3 linked regions of the Homo sapiens genome follow. The protein of the gene in region 1 interacts with the protein of each later gene in a pairwise test. Each region holds a gene or a part of one and is shown on either strand. Other genes may lie near its edges. The genes, in order: REEP1, CSRP1 and CLDN10.

Evidence for each region.
Region 2: the proteins of REEP1 (region 1) and CSRP1 interact in binary tests that used the Homo sapiens proteins (3 or more experiments, as listed by UniProt).
Region 3: the proteins of REEP1 (region 1) and CLDN10 interact in binary tests that used the Homo sapiens proteins (3 or more experiments, as listed by UniProt).

What each region holds. Positions count from the first base shown.
Region 1 is NC_000002.12:86,215,627-86,222,732, reverse strand, and holds part of REEP1 (receptor expression-enhancing protein 1), read left to right. Parts: intron 1-2,611; coding exon 2,612-2,763; intron 2,764-5,622; coding exon 5,623-5,694; 3' UTR 5,695-7,106.
Region 2 is NC_000001.11:201,504,054-201,511,129, reverse strand, and holds the start of CSRP1 (cysteine and glycine-rich protein 1), read left to right. Parts: upstream 1-4,006; 5' UTR 4,007-4,060; intron 4,061-4,290; exon of another isoform or gene 4,291-4,506; intron 4,507-7,076. UniProt on the Homo sapiens protein: Could play a role in neuronal development.
Region 3 is NC_000013.11:95,547,817-95,555,768, reverse strand, and holds the start of CLDN10 (claudin-10), read right to left. Parts: upstream 3,050-7,952; 5' UTR 3,016-3,049; coding exon 2,796-3,015; exon of another isoform or gene 1-2,795. UniProt on the Homo sapiens protein: Forms paracellular channels: polymerizes in tight junction strands with cation- and anion-selective channels through the strands, conveying epithelial permeability in a process known as paracellular tight junction permeability.

The sequences.
Region 1 (7,106 bases):
AAGTAAGAAAATTGAAGCATGGGGAGAAGGGAGTGGGCAAGTAAGATGGAATCAGTGGGGAGAAGGACATTTTAAATGCATACCATCAAGGTGTAGACTGTTGAGACACCTGGCTTCCTTGAAACCACTGCAAAGAGGGAAATACAATTATTAAGAGATTCAGTCCACTGTGCAACAGCCAGCTAGAGGCGTGGAAGCTTGTCTTATTTAGAATGTTTATTCTCACTGGTTCTGAGAGTAAGGCAAATATTATAGACAACACTCTTGGCAGAAATGCTCAGCGGACACAGTGACTAGGAGATGTCTTATCTTCTTAGGAGGTTCTCTCTGTAGCTTCTTCCTGAGGCTATTCTGGCTCCCTCACTGCCCACACTGGCCTCTTTTGCTCCCAGCCTCTGCTGAGCTGAGCACTTGTTTCTATTCCTGCTTGGATATCTGGGTTGTCCTTGAACCATCACTCCTACTGGGCTGGAGGGTCATTTCTTTTCTACCCTGCAATCCTTGCAGTGGAGAACATGCACAAAGCCATTTTGGTTTCAGTCCTGAGATTATAGTGATGATGGTGATTTTGGTAAGTGTGAGTTCATTGCTCAGCCTCAGTGAATCCAGACTGGATAACTAGCCTGGGTTGTTAGATGCCTGAGGATCTCACGGTGACTTTGGGCCACCTTCTGACACCCACAACCATCAGTACAGGGAAAGCCCTGGACCTGGATGTGGAGGGTACAGCATATGCAGAGGCACAGTCTCGAACCGGTACCCACCCCACTTCCATGTCATGGAGTTGGCTGCTGGGGTGGAGCTGGCCAGGCTGCTTCTGCAGTTTTTGCCTTGGTCTGAGGGCTTTTGGTCTTTTTTCCCTCCTGCCAGGCAGGAGGTATCTGTGTCCAGAAGGAATTTCCTGGTTTGGTTAATGGGGGTGTCAAGCTCTGACTTGGGACTAGAGCTGAGCTCTCTGAGATGACTTCAGGATTCTATTTAGTTTAGTTGATGAGTGGCCACTGTGTGCCCAGCCCTGGGTCAGGTGCTCAGAGAGACTGAGGGAGGATCAGCCATGGCCCCCCAGTCTCAGGATGCCTTCTGTTGGCTGAGGCAATGAGACTGACATGAGGACCAGGGCACCCAACACAAGCTGTGTGGCACAGCCTCCAAGCACTGTCGGGTCTCAGAGTGGGGAGGCCAGGGAGGGTCAGAGTATTCAGCGAGGGCTCCCTGGAGTCACTGGTCTTTGTGCTCAACAGGATGCAGCTGATTAGGACAGAGGAAGGGAGCAGAGGACAAACTAAGCCCAGAGTAAATAAGCTGAGGGAAGTGCAGAGTAGAAATAAAATAATAATAGTAATTTAAAAATCAAAGGAACATCAGTGATCTCAGGACTTTACTTACTAAGGCCCAGTCTGAACCAATCACACCCCAGCCTAAAATTCAGCTTTGCATGTTGTGCTGCTTCCTGCTGGCTGTTGGGGAGCACAGCAGTGGTAACTGGTAAAGCTGCCCAAGATTAGGGTTCAGTTGTCTGTTTTTTTACTCCACGCCTGGTGGTGGTATAGTCTAGCAAGTCCACTGTTGATGGAGAGAGAGCACATTCGGTGGCTGAATATGTTCTTAGGAGCAGGGTGTCTCAAGAAGAGCTGTGGTTTCTATCTGGAGGCCTCACGGTGATTGGACCAGATGACTTGAGAACCCCTTAGTCTTGCATTCTGTGATTCTAGGTAAAAACAATAGATGCAGCATAGAAAAATGTGTGTGTGTGATACCAGATAAGCTGGGTAGGGGCAGAAGATATTTTACATCTCAACTAAGAACCGCCTAGCAGATGACATGGAATATGTATTAGCATTTAACATTTAAAAAATACTGTGCGTTCAATGAGATGAATTAATTCTGAAGCTTTTCCCGCAGATGTATTCAAGGCAGACTGAAACAGGAATCTTGCTATCATTTTTTTTGGCAGAGGCATCTGTCAGATTCTCCTTCCTTAGGTTTCTCTGCTTCTCTAGGACTGGGCCTTCGCAAAAAAAAAAACAAACAAAAAAACTATATAGCTTTGTTTAAGGTTATCACTTAAGGCCTCCTGGCATTTTATATCCTGTCTCTTACAGGATGCTTGGAATTGAATATGCAAGTATAATATACAATGTCAACATGGCTTGTATGTACAACATAGAAACTGCTCTCCCACCCCACCCCACATCACTGCTGCCATCCTCTCTAGAGGAGATTCTTTCCCTGAGCATTCACCTGGTGTGGGATCACAGGACTGAGCTGCAGGGATTGATGTGTCTCAGTTAAAGCCGCTTCTTTCTTCACCCAGGGAAGTGATGCCCCCTTAGTAAATCTACTGAATTACTCAGAATTCAGTAGATTCTGAGTCTGTGGTTGTTTCTGTGCACAGTGCCTGGAGATTCACACAACTGCACTTTCACAATCCCAGATCCCCTGTAAGGAGGCCCCCAAAACATCAGTGCTTCCTCAGACCGAGGGGCCTCAGCTGTCCTCACAGGCCTGGTTTGCTGTGCTGTGTGCCTAACCTTGCCCTTCCCTGCTCCCTGCACTGATGCTTCCTTGCTATACCTTGTCTCATCTGTGTAGATTGTAAATGGACATTAAGTGGTTGAGGGAGATGTGAATGAGGGTGGTATGAAGGCATGGGAGCCCCACCAGGTCCAAAACCCATTGGCGTTTTCTGACGACGAGGAGGAAGACCTGCTGGATTTCATGTACAAGTATAAAGCACCTCGAAGGATGGAATTGCCCCTGGAGGTACACAGTGTCTGGGGCTGTGGGTTGGAGTGTGTTTGTCCAAAGGCTATGCCCTGGAGATTGGGGGTCCTGGGAGCAGCATCTCTTGGGGCACCAACATCTCCTCAATACCTGGGGTGGAAAGATCTCCTTCCATCAAACAAGCAGAACCAGTCACTGGATAGCATCCAGCTACTTGCCAAGGAGAGGAAATCCTATTAATTTCATTTAGAAATAGGAGCGTGAGCCGGGTGCAGTGGCTTATGCCTGTAATCCCAGCACTTTGGGAGGCCGAGGCAGGTGGATCACCTGAGGTCAGGAGTTCGAGACCAGCCTGGCCAACATGGCAAAACCCCTTATCTACTGAAAATACAAAAATTAGCCGGGTGTAGTGGCGCGCACCTGTAGTCCCAGCTGCTTGGGAAACTGAGGCAGGAGACTCGCTTGAACCCAGGAGGAGGAGGTTGCAGTGAGACTGCACTGCTGCACTCCAGCCGGGATGACACAGCGAGACTCCTTCTCAAAAAAAAAAAAAAAAAGAAAAGAAAAACAAATAGGAGAGTGGTAAAGTATCTAGGTCTTTATTGTTTTGTTTTGGTTTTTCCAGGTATTAACAACTACCACTCTAAGTTGACGTACAAGTGAAAAACAACCCAAATTGACTGTTTTGGGGGAAGAAAACTCAGAATGTGTTATTTGAAAAGTTTTTATAAATAAGAACAAGGCTTGTTCATCGCTGTATCTCCAAGACACAGCATATAGTGCCTGGTATAAAGTAGCTATTCATGAAATGTTAGTGAAGGGGTATAGCCCTTTAGGGTTACCAAAACCAATACCCTTGACATATATGCTATTTTCAGTTGTAGGATGTGGATGGAGTTCTGGCAGCAGGAGGGCTGAGCCTGGAGCCTCCTGGGCCTTGCTCTGTGATGTGGGTAGGGAGTCACCAGTCATGAGCACAGGTGCAGGGACCCCAGTCTTTCTCTCTGCTTCCTAAGGTCTCCTCTCCTATTCCCCATCTGCTGAGTATCACGGCCTGAGAGGCCATCTGAAGCAAATAGGAAGTCTCCGTACAGACCCTTGTGAGACTTATATGGGGAGATGCCTTGAAATGTTCCCTTCTGCAGACACTGAGCAGCCTAGCATTCTTATTTGTTAGGACTGTAATTATGACCACCTCCATGTGCAGTTCATCAGGTTCCTTTGCAAGGTGAGGCACACATGCATCCCTTTTAAAGTTAGAGGGTTTGGGAAAGGATGTTCTGGGCTTGGACACTGCTGGAGGAGTCTGGCCTGGGCAATCTGGCCTGGGCAGCCTCCTGATGGGGAGAGGAGCCCAGCCTAAAGAATTCTAAGGCCCAAGGGTTTGTGCTGTTTTGCTTTTGTTTATTAAAGCTGCACAAACTGCTTTACTGTTTACAGTTCACCAGCCTGCCAAGAGGCAGATTACTATAAAGGTGGGTTCCGTTGTTTCCGTTTTCAGTGTCTGTCCAGAGGTGGCTGGTAAGCATTTCCTAGTGGTAAGGCTGTAGCATGAGGACTCTATGAGAGGGCCTGAGTCTTGTTTTCTGGCTCATTCACTTCCTGCCTTGTATGTGCCTGCCCAGCACTGAGCCACTTACCAGGAAATGGTGGTGAATGCGACATGGGCCTGCCCTCAGGAAGTCCCCAGTCTGGTGGGGAGAGAGTGAGCAGGGCCCCCACACACTCCCTTCCCACTGGGTGCAAAGTCCTCTGCTGGGGGACATGTACAAAACATGAGAGAACAAAGGAGGTGACGATGCCTGGTTGTGCATGGCTGGGCAGTGGCAGGAGGGGCTCCGGGAAACCTTTGCAGAAGTGACTTTTGAGCTGGGTCCTCAAGAGGCCTAGAAATATGCAAGACAGAGGAGGGAGGGAAGGGCTTCCAGTCAGAAGGAATAGAGGCATGAATGGGCACAGTGTAGAGAAAGAAGTTCTCTGTGTATACAGAGAAGTGGACAGACACGGGGGCCAAGGGTAGGTTGGGGCCAGTTGTGTGAACCCCCTCAAGTGCTGTGCCAGAAAATGTTCCCTTCACTTTCATTGAAATAGGAACTCCTCCTGTGATCTGTGTATCCCATGGAAGGAGGGGTCTCTTGAGAGTCATTTGTGGGAGAGATGAGGTGGAGCCCTTCATATAAGTTGAGCATCCCTAATCGAAAAATCTGAAATTCTTTGAGTGTGGACAAGACGCACAAAGGTCATGCTCATAGGAGCATTTTGAATCTCAGATTTTCAGATTGGGGTGCTCAATTGGAATGTATATGCAAACATCCCAAAATCTGAAAAAAAAAAAAAAAAAATCTGAAATCCCAAACACTTCTGACTCCAGGCATTTCCGGATAAGGGATATTCAACCTGTACTTCAAGGTGGTGTTTGCCTTTGTGGTGTGGTGTGCTGTACATTAAGAGGTTTCTCATCCAGAAAGGGGACTGGAAATTTGATGATGGAAATTTGAGGCATGTACCAAAACACATTAGGCTGGTTCCCAAAGGAAATAACAAAAGCAAAGGAAGCATGCGGAGGTGTCTCTTTCTGCTGAATCATTTAAGATAATTTTGCTCCTCAGGCAGAAACAAGAAAGATGTGTCATTCTGCACAACCGTTCCCTTGGGAGATTGAGGAGCATAATTTAAGAGGGAGGCATCAGCCTCTCAAAGGGCTCAGCTTCATGCGATATGTGGGATGGGACTCTGATGATTGCTTCCTGTTGCGGAGATTCAGGGAGACCCCAGCCCTAGCCAGCTGCATTTGGCCAAAGGAGCTGGAAGTCTCAACACAATGCCTTCCAGGTGCTGACCTCAAAAGATCCCACATTTACACCAAACTGAGGGACACCTTTCTGTTTTCTCTACCAGGCACCGCCTAGAATCCTTCGATCTCGCTTCAGGAAGAAAAGTACCTCATCCTCGGCCACCGAAACCACGTGAGTGAGATGAGCCAACAGCACCGGATCCACAGAATGTTTCTTCTCTGCCTTAAAGAGCTATTCACTAATAACATAGAAATCCGCAAGCTGGGTGTGCTTTGAGTGTGCAGCCTCACAAACATGGCCTTTTCTCTCTCCCCTTCCACTTTTAAGGATTTATTTTTTTCCCCCTTTTCTTTATTTTGCTGGGGAGAGGCTAAAGGGAAAGGTAGTAGGGGCGGGGGTGGTGACCTTTAAGTCTTCTGAGGTTGGTAATTTTCCACAATTGGATTGTCATTATAGACAGCAGTGTGTTTTTTAGAAAGATAAGAGAATCACCCCTATGCTGCTGAGATGTACATTTGTAATTTATCTGTTGCATACTTAGTTTTTAGTCCTGTAAATGCAAACACAGCATTTTTTACAACTTTCTTTGTTCTTGGTACTTATACTTTGAACTATGATGTACATATTTATGGCTTTTGGCTTTTAATATAATGGACTTGCAAGGGCTGCCAGAGGTTCTGATATGTAAGAAAACTGCAAAAACAAATATAGACAAATATTTTGATTCTAGAGAACGTCTCAGATGTGCTTATAAAGCTTCCAAATACAACTCCAGTAAGACATCCCTTTCCCTGCAGGAGTGTGGTCTATATTCTTTAGATAGTTGTTTAGTCAAAAGACCAGACAAGTTACAAACTAAGAGAAACAATATTTCACAACACAGTAAAGTGTGATGAGAGGTCAGGGGAACATCCCAGTAAAAGAGAAGAGTCACAGGAAGCTCATCTCCTCCCTGGATTCTGGATTAGGAGCTTCTGAATCTTTTCCAGGGATAGGCAGGTAGCTCACTCTTGGTGCAATTTCTTGAGGATGGGAACATGTAGAGCTGCTGGAAGGAGTAATTCTGTGCTTGACAAAGGACGATTTCTCCTTTATCGTGACCAGTGCTGCCGATTTCCTGACAGAGGAGCTTACACTCTGAGCACCTTGTTTTAGCGAACTCTAGCAAAACTTGTTTAGCTTAGCAAAAACAAACACACAAAAAACTGAGAACTCTGCTGTTTCAGATATGCCATAACATACATCTGAAACACATGTGTAACAATCAAAATGGTGGGCTCTAGAATGGTTTTGGAGCTCGAGATCTTCATGGGTTAGACTTGCTGGTCAGACCCAGGAGCACCTGTGGCTCACACCTTCTGTTCCCCTCCTGGCCTGTGCAGAATGTAAACAGCAGACTCATACTCAATGGGCACTACAGGCCTTATCAGACGTTTTATACAAGCCTGGATTGCTTAGTAGGGGAATAAGGCATTCTCTGAGGGGGCTTTCCACTTAGATTGAGAATTTTATTTGAAAAGAATCTGGTTTAAATGGCATTGTGGTCCGAGGTAGCTGCTCTCCCCACTGAGAGCTGAGCCGAAATAT
Region 2 (7,076 bases), on another chromosome or scaffold:
CAAGGAGAATGCAAAATTCAAATAAATTTTTGCAATAAACCCCAAGACTTCAAGGACTGGGAGTGGATTGATTCTGACAACACTGTGGGTTCCTTACATTTACTTCTTTGCTGTCAGAGGTACCTCAGTGGAAATTTTGGAGAATACTGAGTTAGTCCAACCTCCCATTTCACACATGAGGAAAACTGAGGCCTAGGCCATGGTCACAAAGCTACTAAGTTAGCTACTGCTGTAAGCCCTGGTCTCCTCACATGCAAAGCAGGGGGTAAAAATAGTCCTTACTTCATACAGCTACTGCGAAGATTAAAGGGGACAATTGTGTAAAGTACCTGACAGGTAGTAAATGCTTAATAATTATAATTATTCCTCATTATCAACAGTATTTTATTTGTTTTTTGTTTTTTTGAGACACAGTTTCACTCTGTCACCCAGGCTGGAGTGCAGTGGTTGGATCTCGCCTCACTGCAACCTCCACCTCCCAGGTTCAAGCGATTCTCTTGTCTCAGCTTCCACAGTAGTTGGGATTACAGGCACATGCCACCATACCCGGCTAATTTTTCTATTTTTAGTAGAAATGGGGTTTCACCATGTTGACCAGGCTGGTCTTGAACTCCTGACCTCAAGTGATCTGCTGGCCTTGGCCTCCCAAAGTGCTGGGATTAAGGCATGAGCCACTGCGCCAGCCATCATTAGTATTTTAAATCATAGATGACAGAGCTGAGACTCAAACTGCAAGTTTAGGGCTGGATTTTTTTTTTCTTTTTTTAGACCATTAGATGAGTAAACTTCTTGAGGTCAGGATCCAAATTATAGGCTTCCTTGTATTCCCAGAACCTAGAGACCAGCACAGAGTGGGGCCCCAATAAATGTCTTCTGAGTGAATGGTTGGATGGATACATGGATGAACAGGTGGATGGACGGATGGATGGATGGATGGATGGAGGGAGGGATGGATGGATGGAGAGACAGATGGATGAACAAATGGATGGATGGGTGAATGAATGAATGGATGGATGGACAGATGGATGGAAGGATGGACAAGAAGATCTCCAGCCCAGACTGGATCTCTAATTTCTCTGGGATGATGAGCAGAGCTAAGCCAGACACATTCCCTTACTCTTTCCTCAGCCTCACACTCAGGTCCTCTTCACTTGGGATCAATGCGGAAAAGAAGGGTTTCACCACAGGAGAGGAGAGAGAAGATGTAGCATCAGGATGCTGATGAGGGAGGAAAGAGAAGAAAAGATGCCAGAGGAAGCAGCAGACAAAGTTGGAAGCTGGAGGACAGGGGCCCTACTTCCTGCCTGTAACAGGCCCCACTTCATTCCTAGCAGCCATCAAATACCAACCCAGAAGTGTTGGGAAATAGAGTGCACAGAGAGAACATAAAGATACTGAAAAGGTTAGACATTTGTGAGAGTCCTGAGAAGCAGGTAAGCCCCTAAGTGTGCCAAGCCTCCTTCTAGAACCCCTAGCAGATAATTTATTGGTGATGAGCTCTGACTGCATTGTCTCTGCAGATGTGGGTGCTGCTGACCAGCTCGGGCCAGTCTAGATATGGTTATATAAATGAGGTCAGCCAGAATGAGAACCTCTGCAGAATGAGAATCTCTGCCTTAAGGATGTCCCAAGTATTGATGATGTTTACTGATTTTTCTGTCATTTCAACATCAGGCTTGTTCCTGTTTGCATGGTGGGTAACCCCAGCATCACCTTTGACTCAACTCAATCCCAAAGCCCTTCCTCATCCCTCAAGTCTTCTTTATCTGCAAATGTGCTATCTAAGACCAAGCCCAAGTAACTGGCAGCAGGCTGGGAGAATAATATAGTCAGAAGGTGAGAGGTTCTGGAAAAACACCAAACAAGGCAGGTCCTACTTGGCTTCATCTGTAGCTCTGCGTAGACAGCTCCTAAGACAAGTGACCTGACAGTCTTTGGGTGGAAAAGAGGGGTGACCATCTGCCCTGGACTGCCTGAGATAGTCCTGTTGCCTTAGTGTAGTTACGAATACTACCACATACCACTTACTATCCAAAGCATTCTGGTTTAGATGACACATTGTACAGCCATTCTGTTTATAAGGTGCTTTAAGATCTGGGAGAAATCCAAGTGTGACTGCAGTGACTGCTCTTCTTTTTCTGGATCTACCCTAAAGCCATTTCACAGCACAGGTTGGCATGTCCTCACAGGGAAATCTATCAACAGTCCCATGACTCCAGAGAGGACAAACCCAGACCAAAGAAGGTAATGTAGGAGTTTGCCCTTTTGTAAAATCCTGGGCAAAACTCCGAGGCTCATCTCTCCAAGATACTGAGAATTGAAAGGAGAGGGGGAAATCCCATGGGATCGCCATCTTTGGGCGGAAGCCCTTGGTCTCTGACACTGATGGTGGTTCTGCAGTTTAATGGACCTGTTTAACTATTGCTTAGTCAGTGCAGCCGTGACCAGAAATTCTTCTGGTTTCTCCTCCTTCATCTTGGTTGGGTCAGATGAAGATGGCCCAATCTGCAAGAAACACTGGTTGTGTGCTTCTAGACATTTTAATCTTGGAGGGCCTTGTTTATAGGATGGACCTGGCCAAAGGAAAGATGTTACTTATGGTAGAAAGCAAGAAAAACCTAGATAAACACTTTTTTTTTTGAGAAACACTCTTGCTCTGTCGCCCAGGCTGGAGTGCAGTGGTGCAATCTTGGCTCACTGCAACCTCTGCCTCCTGAGTTCAAGTGATCCTTCCACCTCAGCCTCTCGAGTAGCTTGGATTACAGGCACACACCACCACGCCTGGCTAATTTTTTTAATTTTTTTGTAGAAACAGGGTTTCACCAGGTCTCGAACTCCTGGGTTTAAGCAATCTGCCTGCCTCGGCCTCCCAAAGTGTTGGGATTACAGGCGTGAGCCACAGTGCCTGGCCAAATACTTCATTTTCTAGATCATAAGATGCTTAACTTTATTCCTGGCAAAAAGTTGATTCAGCAAACCAGGGCTTTAAGTGAAGCCGGTTGGGGCCTGAACCCTTGACACCTGCCCAGGGTGGAAGACATAGCAGCTGCATCTATGGGCCACCTGGGGTGTAGGGTGACCAGCTGGAGGCTGTGAGCTTCTCTGCTCCCTGAAATGCCTGCACGGGGCACTCAGGAAGGGCTGGGGACTGGGTGAGGAGGTGTGGACAGAATGTCCCCTGGAAACTGCCCCAGGGGCAGCTTGAGTGGCCTGAGCCTGTGTCTGTCCTACTGAAGGTTGGAGCCCCAGAGAAAAGCCTCTATGGAGGCACCCACTTTTCAGAACTGCTGCTTTTGCGGGAGAACACCTTTTTCCAGGTGTTGTCCTTAGGGTAGCAGGGAAGACTGGGAAAAACTGAGGGGCAAGAGCTGTTGGAGGGGGGAGTTACATTTATTGAGTGTCTATTACATGCCGGGTGCTGCTGAAGGTCTGCGGGTCCTACCGGATCTCCTTTTAGCCCCTCACATCCCTGTAGATTACACGCCGTTCACAGATGACCCTGAACCCAGAAGGGCTGTCTAGGCCCAGGGCCCAGCTAGTGAGTGGATGGGCAGAATCAGACCTGCCCTGGAAGGGTCTGTCTTACCCTGGCGCCCAAAATGTGTCCCTCACCCTCTGCCACCAGGACAAGTAAATTCGAGACACCCTTTCGTTAGGGGCTCAAGTTTATCATGGGTCTGACCTCTAAGGTCATATCTCCGCCTTCTCACCTGACAGACAGGAAACTCCTGAAATGCCCCTCGCACGTGCAAGACGTTTTCCGCGGTGGCGGCGACAGGGCGCACAGTGGGACCGCAGCACGAGCTCGGAGCACCCCCAGAGTCGGCGACTCCTGCCCCCGCCCCTGCCGGCCGGCCTTCCCGGGGCCTAGGAGGGCAGCACCGCCGGGCTTCGCGCCATGACATCAGCCCTGGAGTGGTGCAGTGTGCAAAGCCCACTGGTTGGCGTGGCCCGGGACACGCCTTCCGCGGAGCGGAACAAAACGGCGCGCAGGCCGGGCGCACCCAGCCGCCACTTCCGAGAGCGCCTGCCGCCCCTGCGCCGCCGAGCCAGCTGCCAGGTGAGTGCGCCCTGAGTCGCGCGGCTCTGCCCGCCGCGGAGGGGCGCCTGGGCACGCACTCAGCGCCTCCCGGTCTTGCCAGCCCCGCCGCAGCCCCGGGGCTGTCGCAGGCGGGGAACTGTGAGAAGTGACCGCAGTTAGCCCGGGCAGTGCTGCTCTTTTCTGGAGGCACTAGGTCCGTCCCCATCCCGGGCCTTCCTGGGCTTCCTGGACACAGTTGACTTCCGCGTGTGCGTGACCCAGGGCGACCCGGCTCCCCGCAACCGCCTGCAAGTCGGGCAGAACAATCGGCGATTCTGCGCGCCACTGACGCTCATTGTATGGCAGAGAGATGAGGGCATCCGTGCCACCCCCTCCCTCACCCTCCTGCTGGGGAGAAAATGCCCGCGGGCGGGGTGGGGCAAACATCTGGGCCTGACCTTGGACATCTGTGTCCCTGAGCGCAGGTGTGAGTTTTCCCTCTTGTGAAATAACTGCATGGAAACCTCTCCACTCCAAATCTTGGTGCTAGGTGGTGATGGTTACTGAAACCTGAAAGAGCCTGCAGTCAGTGTTTTGTGGCCTCAGTCCTTGAAAGCTGGGAAGTGATAAAGGGGCTGGTATTGAGCACATTTAAAGCAAATCACAATGTGTTAGCTAACAATCAGCCCTCTGAGGCAGGTATTGTATCTACTGGTACAGACTAGAGAATATTTTGCATGCTTCTGGTTCTGGTGCTGTTGTGAACTAACCAGGACCCAGGAATCGGCTGGAGCAATAGTGGGCTCAGGCTCTGCCTAGAGCCCTGGGCTCCAGCCACCCACCAGCTGCTCCCTGAGAGTGAATGAATGGGCAGGCTCTCCCCACGCTGGGATACTATCACAGTGGCACCGAGGAAATCCACTGGGCCCTGGTAGAAAGTATATCAGTATATCATGAAGAGGTGGCTTGGAGTCTTGGTGGGATTGTTTGGAAGGCAGAGTTTTGACTCTTGGATTTGCCACTTAACGCGCAGGTTTCCTTGGACAAACTATTTAACTTCTCAATGTCTCAGTTTCTTTCAGGGATGCTACTTGGGGAGCATATTACACAGAACCTCCAACACAGGAGTGATCTCTCAGTTACTGTCTTTCTTGTCCTCCCCTCATCCCTTGCCTTCCTCCCAGAAGCTAAGGAGGCTGGAGGTGCTGGTTGTCTCCCTCTGTCCTCTCAGACTGCATGTTGGGGATTTTCCCCAGGTGGGATTTGGGGATGGGTACTGAGCCTCCCCTCAACTGCTCTCACTCAACTGCTGCCTCCTGACTCTCCAGCTGGTTTCTGGCTACCTCTTTTGAGAGAGACTGTCCTCAGCCCTCAGCTGCTGGAGGGCAGCTTTTACCCATTGTTTCCTAAATCCAGCCTCCTCCTGCTCACGGTCTTCCAGTGAATGACTCTTTGCCTTGGAGAGGATATCCGGGGCGGAGGCAGTCAGACGAGGAAGGAAGTTTATCCTGCAGAGGGTGTAGTGTGGGTTAGAGGAGAGGGAGGAGAGAACTGTCTGCAAGGCCTGAGATGCCCAGGATGGAGGGTATGGGGAAGAAGAAGCAGGAGAGAAACTAAAGAGAAGGCCCATCAACTCTGCAATTGGCCTGCTAATAAAATGGGAAAAACAGGGGTGCTGTGGCCTATTTGCCTGTGGTCTGTCTTAGCACCTGCCTTCCTGGCCCAGGTGTTTGCTCTTTTAATTGCACACATGTGCATCTGCCTCTGGAGCTAGTGAGTCCTGACTGGGCCAGAGTTGCAGCCTGGGAGTGTAGTGACACTTGACTGAGTGATCAGCAAACATTTGATGAATGAGTGGGGTAGCAATGGTCTTTCAGCTGAGTTGGCCTACGGGATACTCATAAACCTTGCAAATAGTTACTAGCCAGTTTTTCCACTTGGGTAGATTGACAAGCAGGTGAGAGAAAAAAGGCGTAGGTTTTTTTTGGGCTTTTTTGTGTGTTTTTGTTTTGAGGCAGTCTTGCTCTGTCACCCAGGCTGGAGTGCAATGGCGTGACATTGGCTCACTGCAACCTCTGCCTCCTGGGTTCAAGCGATTCTCCTGCCTCAGCCTTCCAAGTAGCTGGGATTACAGGTGTCTGCCAATATGCCCAGCTAATTGTTTGTATTTTTAGTAGAGACGGCATTTCGCCATGTTGGCCAGGCTGTTTTTGAACTCCTGACCTCAGGTGATCCACCTGCCTCGGCCTCCCAAAGTGTTGGGATTACAGGCATGAGCCACTGCGCCCGGCCTGGTGTTTTTTTTTTTTTTGGAGACAGCGTCTCACTATATTGGCCAGTCTGGTCTCGAACTCCTGGCCTCAAGTGATCCCCTCCCTGTCCCCACCACCATCTCAGCCTCCCAAAGTGCTGGGATTACAGGCATGACCCACTGCGCCTAGCAACATAGTTTTTAATTCACTGTCCATCCCTGGTGTGGGAAGCAAATTGGGAAGGCTTTTCTGGCAGGTTGTTAAAGTTTTAAATATGTATGTAAGCCTAGCTTATTGTGAAACGTTGGCTTGCTAGATGAAGACACATGCGTTAAATATTTTGGGATCCAAAGAGGTGCTAGTGAGAATAAGACTTTTTCCTCCAAGTCAGCCATTTGGCATTACTCAGGGCATATTGTCAAATATCAAAAGAGATACAAACCTGAACGATAAGTGTTAGAGTTGGCCTCTCCTTAAGATAAGGATAACCAGATATCTGCACTTGCAGTGTACCAGACAGTGTGAGAAATACTTCACATGTGTTATCTTGGACAATTTATGAGGTAGCTACTGATGCTCTCCATTTTACAAATGGAGAAACTGAGGCTCAGAGGTAGTAAGAAACTTGCTCAGGATCACAGCTGATCAGTTGTGGAGCTGCCATTCAAACATAAGCTGACTGTTTCCAAAACGTATGCTCAGTCACTACCTTATTATTTTTCTTTGCTCCTCTACATTTCCTTTTTCCAGATCAACTCACTAAGGAAATATCTGCCATTTGTGAAACACATCAGCTTTACAAG
Region 3 (7,952 bases), on another chromosome or scaffold:
GGGGAATCAACTCCCCTCCACAGGAAAACACAGTTGCATGATTTAACCCTCCAAGATGTTATTCTGAGAGATACAGAAAAGTAAGTTTGTTTTGCGGTAAGAAATGCCATCTTAAGCCACAGAAGGAAAGTCATCAAAAAAACAGGCTGATAAATATGATTCTATTACAAATTTCAAAGTCCTGTGTGAGAAAAGGCATCATAAATTTAAAAGATGAACAATGGTGTGAGATTGCAACCTACATAACAAATCAAGGACTGACAAATCATCGAAACCACAAAGAAACAACAGAACCATGGGCCTAAGATATGGATGCCAATTCACAAAAGAGAAAAAAAAACGGTCAGTGAGTTTTGACCATTTTTATAACCAGTGATTTTGACCACGGCAATAAGGGAAATGCCAACTAAAATGATAAGATGGCTGGGCGCGGTGGCGCACACCTGTAATCCCGGCACTTTGGGAGGCCGAGGAGGGTGGATGACCTGAGTTCAGGAGTTCGCGATCAGCCTAACATGGTGAAACCCTGTCTCTACTAAATGCAAAAAAAATTAGCCGGGCATGGTGGCACATGCCTGTAATCCCAGCTACTTGGGAGGCTGAGACAGGAGAATCACTTGTACCTGGGAGGCGGAGGTTGCAGTCGGCTGAGATTGTGCCACTGCACTCCAGCCTAGGCAACAAGAGCAAAACTCCGTCTCAAAAAAAAAAAAAAAAAAAACTGGATTAACACAGAGTGGTGAGAATGTGGAGAAGCAGGTATTCTCATACACTGTCAGTGGAAAGTAATTTGACAGTATGAACTGAATATTAAAATGCACGTGTATTCTACTGCTCTTACGATACCATTTCTCAGTGGAATGGAGTCTACAGAAATACACACACATACAAAGAGGTGAATATAAGATTTTCAGTAAAGCACCACCAACAAAGAAAAGCTGGAAAAGGTCCAATGTCCACAATGGATCTATGGTTAACTAAGCCATTTTATGCAGTCTAATGAATATACCATGCAGCAGTTACACAGAGTCAAGTCACTTCTATTAAGTACTGACTTGGAAAAATACATTGATTTTAAAGTGTTGTACAACAGTAGGTAGTGTCATGCCATTTATGTTTTTAAAAGTCATTTTTTAGTCACATGAGCACACAGGAAGGCCATTTTGCAAGCTGGATGGCATAAAAATGTCACTCCTCTCTGTTCTCCTCCCAGCTAACCAGGACAACTATTCCTACTTCCTCTTCACTCCCGGCCCGATCTGCCCCCAAACAGGTATGGTACCACCTCCACTCTCACTGCAGACATGTAGGAGAAAACTTTATTATTCTGCACTTAATAATATTCATAGAGCATTCATTTCCTTCTCTCCCTTGTCCCCCAACTGTCCTACAGAAGGAAGCGTACCTATCTGGCACACTATCTCAGAGAACAATAGAGTTACAACAGAAGAGTGTTCAGAGGACAGTAACACATTGCTGACTATAAATCACAGGAACAAGAGAATGCCTGTTCATCTACCTGGATGCGTGCTCTACAAACCACAGGAAATTCAACGGTAATGCTGGGGAATAAACACTGTTCCGGCTGCTTATTTTACCGAACAGGACACGGACCCGGGCGCCACCCTTCTAAAACTAGATGCGTATTCCTTATACGGAGGTTCCATCAAATACCACGTTGAGCAACAGTTTGCTCTTCGTGGCAAACCCCATCTTAGAGGAATCAACTATTTTCTTTCATTTACCCAGCTATGTAAACAAAACCTGCAAGTGCGGTAATAAAAGAAAAAAACACCTCAAATCTAGAAATATGTAATGTAAATAACTCCTCTTAAGTTTCTGCCAGGATTCGTTTGCTGTAAAATCCTGGAAGCAACGGGCCTAGAACTTGAGCAATCAATGGGACCGGGCTGACATCGGCTGTTGTCTTGAAACTCAACAGAGCCAGAGTTCTGTGTGAATATCCACCAGCTGCTACCAGCATAAGGCCTGACTAACCAGAGCAACGCAGGTGAACCTCCACAAAGGAACAACCCAGGACAGCAGCAGGCACCGGGGACTCGGATGCAGAACTGGTCAGCTCCCGGCGCCACGCTCTCACGGCCCAAGATTCCCTACCCTCTGCGGACTCATCGCGGCACCGCAAGGGCTATTATTTTCCTAAAACTCGGAGGAAGTGTTTGTAGTGTTGCCTAGGCAGACAAGTTTGTAGAAGCTCTTTAAAGGGAAACAATAACAACAACAAATTCTGCAATATGTTTTCCCGCTTCCAACCTCTCAACCCCCACCCCCGCCTACTTTTAAAAGAACCAACGAAATGGCTCAAGGGAGGTCAGGACAAACGGATTTGGCTTGCAATGACACCATTTTTATCAGAACCCAGCCTTCGGGGAACGTAGGGGAGGGAGGTGGAGGAGACAAGCCCCTGCAGCATGAACTCTGGGTCCCAGCGGTCCCCAAGATATGGGGGGTGGGGGAGGGCAGCCGCTTCCTTGACTCTCAGGACCGCAAAGCTTCCCCATCCCCCGACGCCTGGGAGTCACCAACCCGGGCCTGTCTGCGTGTCCCCCCTCCCGGGGTCCCAGGCTCGAACAGGCGCCCCGCGAGACAGCCATCAGGAGAGGGCGGGCACCAGGAGCGTCCCTGGCTCCCTAAGGCCCTGTTGGGAGAGACGGGTCGGGCCTCAGAGGAGTCCAGTCTAGGGGTCCCGCTGGGGGTATTGGGGGCGAGAGGGCGCCTAGCGGGCTGGCCATCAAGGAAGGAGGGCTGAGGGCGGGGGCCGCGGGGATGCAGACCGTCCAGCGCCAGCATGGAGGGGAAGTCCTTGCAGTTGGAGACGCCCGTGGAGTCGGTAACGCACGCCTTCCACAGGTTGGCCCAATAGGTGGCGGTTGTGATGACCGTGCCGTCGATGGTAGACACCTTCCAGTAGTCGGTGGGCAGCGTGGAGGACACCAGTACCCAGCCTGAGATGGAGACCATGAAGGCGATGATCTCCGAAGCCGTGCTAGCCATGCCGCCGGCTGCAGCCGCGCTCGCTCTCCGGCTCCCACTCTGCGCCGCGACCCCCGCACTCCCAACCCCGGGGCTCCGCCTCCCGCCTCCGCCTCCGCCCACCGTCCCCGCCCACCACCCCGCCCAGCGGACCCGGCGCCAGGGGGCGCACGCGACCCCTCACACCCATGCCCTGTCCCTTGAGGGGCCTCAGAGGGCTCGCGGTCGCCCCCCGGGTTCTCCATCTGCAGCTGGCCCGCGCCCGCGTGCGGGAGGAAGGCCGGCCTGCGCTCCCCTGAGCCAAAGGGCCGCGGAGAAGGGCTCGCTTGTTGGAGCGGCTCAGGTTCAGACTGGCAACCGGGTGTGGACAACCTGCTGCGCCCCCACCTCACCACCCCCACCCAGCCCTACCCAAGGCAAATAGCTTGGCTTCCTGACTACCTTGTAGAAGCAGAGCAGGAAAAGCCTTTTGCATGCCCTGAAAGGACACGGTTTGGTAACTCAGCCCTCGGTTTGCTGAACTCTAAAGGTTTGCGTGCCACGCTTGTTTGGGTGACTCTGTTTGACTTGTCAAGGAGGGATCATTGCAGATTCTGGGCTGGAAACCGGCCTTGCCCTCAAAACTCTGCAGTTCTTTTTGGCCTGGTGCTATGCGGAAAGTCATGGCAAAACGGTGCGTGGCACAGGCCTAAAGTCAAGATAGCAGCAGATGGGGCATCCTGACGATCTTGATCTTGCTGGTGTACTCATACTAATGCACTACGCAGAGGGCATTTGTTCAACACATTTTCCCTGTAGGTCCCTTCCAGCTTCCAGGTCTAGAGGCTATTCTATGAAAGGATGCTGTTATCCCAGTCAAAACTGCTATCTTGTCTTTTATTTTTTTTTAAACCACCTCCATCTCTCACGCCTAATTGAAATATAAACTCATTCATTCCTTCATCCCTTCATTGCTGTCTCAAGGTAAACATAAAGATCAAGGTGTACTTCTGGCTCCTGAGGCCACAAATCTGGGCATAAATGAGAGAACAAGGACACGGGTTATTATTTGTCCACTTAAAGGTTCTTGCAGTTTTGTTATGAGCTTCCAGGTTTCACTTGTTGCCAAAAGTAAGGAAAGGTCTAAAACCTATCAATCAGTCTGCTGTGATAAATCTCGTGCTAACCCTCTGTGTCACTATCTTTAGGCAGAAACACTCTGGTTCAATGTGAAGAATTTCTTAATTTCCCTTTGTCACTTTTTTTTTTTAACCAAATGGGTGCCCAGTGAAATTAGAGGCGACAAGGTGACTGGAGAAGAGAGGAAGCTGGACATAGAATCATCAAAACTTAGATTGGAAGAATCACTGTAGACCAGCAGGACACGCTCCACACTCAAAACAATGTTCCTGTCTATTTCTAGAGATAATGTTTAGCCCATGCTCCACCCTTCAGGACCAGCAGTTCAGTGCATGGCAACGTATCTATTCTGTTTTTCTTCATGTTGTTTTGACAGCCCTTTAAAAAAGCTTTTCTTCCTATTGAGCCCCAAATCTGTCTCTCTTCAATGTCTACCCGAATGTTGTAATCTGTGCTCTGAGAACACGAAGTAAGTCCTACTCTTGTTGCAGCCGTGCAGCGGCTGGCAGGTAGTGGGCTTCTCTGTGCTTAATGGTCCCATGGCTTTCGTGAATGGGTACAAGGGTGACAATGCAGACATGGTTACCCTACTGTTCTGCTCTGAACCCCAGCTTGTCCTGATGTATCATGTTAGGTTCACTGGTAAACTAAACTTAAAAACTGAGTTTAAGAAGTATCTCCCTGGCTGGGCGCAGTGGCTCACACCTGTAATCCCAGCACTTTGGGAGGCCGAGGCGGGCGGATCATGAAGTCAGGAGATCGAGACTATCCTGGCTAACACGGTGAAATCCCGTCTCTACTAAAAATACAAAAAAAAAAAAAAAAAAAAAAAAAAGTATCTTCCTAACCTCTTCCTTCTCATTCTCCTTGCTATGCAAATCAGTCACCTTTGAGCAATGACTACAAAGCATCCTCTATTCTTTTGTATGGCTTGCCTTTTTAAAGTGTTTTATCATCTGTTTTTTTGCCCTCCAGCATATTTCCACTATTATTTCTATGCCATATTCCTTCCTGAATAATCTGCCTATTTCTGATCCAATTACTATTTGAAAAACACAAAACCCACTAACCATAACATTTCTTACTGATTTTTCTAAAATTACAAATTACACAAATTTAATACTTTATTTCCTGGCCTTGTTCGATAGTCCCTTTGTTTACCGTGGCTCGCCTATGGTAGATACTCACTAAATTGATTATTTCTTTGTTTTTACTAGACAAAACCCTGACTTACTTTTGCCACAAAACAAGTGTAGTGCTGTGACCTTTAAGACTCAAGCACTTCCTAATTTATCACCTAGTTGCTATGAAGTCCACTGTTTGGATCCAAAGGCACATTGTTTGTTTTAAAGAAAGAACTTTGAAGAATGGTTTGGTGTTTTAAACCAGTCTGCAAAGTTTATTTAACACATAATGTAGCTCTACCCATTATACTTCAAAAATCCATAAGCCCAGATTACCGTTGCAACATAGCATCCGGAAGAAACAAATTCTGAATTCCTGCTTGGAACACTCTTCTCTCTGCCGCATCGCCACACCAGTGAAGCCAGAATCTCTGGGGGTGGCCTTGGTAGCAGTATTTCCAAAACTTCTAATGTGGACTCAGGCTGAGAACCACAGCTCTGACCAGTTGAGCTCTGTGTATGTGTGTATAAACAGTTAATTTAGCATAACGGATGGTGGTATGCATCACAGGAAGAAAGAATATTAAACTCATTGTTGAATACTTTGAAAAAAGAAATATTCTATTACTGTAGAGATTGCAACACACAATTTCAACTTAAAAGGGATGGGAAACACCACAAACAATCCATAAATTAAAACTTAAATGGCAGCATTATTAGTTCCTTTGGCAGCTAAAACAGACTAGGGTCGTCATGCCTGTGGACTTGGTTAATTTTCCTTTCTCCTTTCTATGAGGTTGGACAACCCTAAACTCTTTTCTTTATCTTCCCTAGGATGTACTACATAGTTACTGTGGAAAGCTGTATGTTGGAGGCCATGAGTTCCTGACCAAAGAATGAAAAATGTTAACTTTCTTTAATACCTAGATAATATTATGTAATGAATCAAACATTTTTATTTTAGAATGTCTTATATCTTATGCTTCTCAAGCTAGTTTTGTCAGGAGAATTCTAAAGATATTATGGAGTAGCATATAATCTAAAAAAAGAATGTCCAGAAAATAAAAATGGACCAAATAGAGATTTTTGAAAAGAAGTAATGGATAAATGTCTTGTTTTGCTTTAAGATTATACAGTTCCCAAATAACCTTTGCAGTTAATCTGCAAGCCGATTTACAGAGTACTTTCGACTGATAAATGCTTCCTTATTTTCTTTAGGATTCAGTTCACTGAAATTTCATAAGAGACTATTCTTAATTTAAATATAAAAGTGAATACATCAAAAAAGGTTGCCTCCTCTAAATTATTCAAAGTAACATCTTAGTTAACAATAGTTTAGTCTTTACAAAAAGCTATAGATCTTTTCCAATATGAAAACTACTAACTGATCTATAAATTTGACCCGAAGACATACAATGCCCTCAAACATATTCTGAGCCTTTCTACTTTTGAGGTCTAAGTCACTGGAATTAGCATTGAAAATTATTTCTTTGGCTTATTATGGTTATTAAAGAGAAATAGAGGATCCCCCCCACCCTGGGGTTGTTCAATAGGAGTGAAAACCAGTTTAGCCAACTAAACAGGAGATTTGCAGAAATTCCTTACTTGAGATTCAGTACACCTACCAAGCAACGCAGGTGTGCCTTTCAATAGCTCAAGGATTTTCTAAGCATCAGATTTGGTTTCAGTATACATTAGCTCCTTCCTAGATTCCAGTGAGGTGGCGTGCTGCTAATCAGGTGGGAAGAAACTGAATTCCTGATGATACGGTATTAACTAAAAAAAACAACTGCCCAGGAGCCAAGTATTGTTACATCACATTAAAGAAGACATTAATGCCGGTACCAAGATATTAAAAGAGCATATCTGTGTTCTTTTTCCTTCCATTTTCCCTAACATTTCATTTATCTTAATGCTTATGCAAATCCAATGATATTTGTAATCTACTTAGCATGAAAGCTACAGAGTGATAGGAATAGTTACAGAATGAACAGTTATTCTCACCATTGCATCACCATTCATATATAAATATATATCTATAATTTTTTTTGCAAATTATAACTATAAAAACAGTTGCCTTATTCTGTCATTTGGCAACCTGTGAAGTTGTACTCCATCAGAATATTTCTATGGGCCTATTACAAGTCAGTGCCATATACCTTGTGGATTTGTTTTTCATGCATTCATTTGAAACACACTCATTCCCAATTCTAAATTATCTTAGTAGACTCCTCTTGAGCCCCTGAAGGGGAGGGGTAAGGTTTGGGCCCCAGCAGGAATACCCTTCGAGCCTGGAATTACTCTCACTCTGTGATGCTAGAACATTCCAGGGCTTGTAGACAGGTTGGGTACATTTTGTTTGTCCATAAGCACTTGATGAATATCAATATAACCTCCCACCCAGGTCGGGGCAGTATGTTAATTTATATGTTTTGGGCAAGTGATTTTATGTCTCTGAGTTACAGCTCCCTCATTTGTAAAACAGAGGAGTTATTCTGGATATCTTCCGAGACCACTTTCAACTCCAAAAACCCCTGAGTCTAGGATTCCTAATGAACTTAGTCATTCACAGATAACATCAAGGAGAGGAGAGTAGCAGTTTTCCTTTGGTGTCTTTACTGTTTTATTCCCACTTTCTGCCTCCCTCCTTTGTTAAATTTAAAGGTGGCGTCTGTATAGATGTGTATGTGAGAGGCAGTGCATGGAGAAAATCTA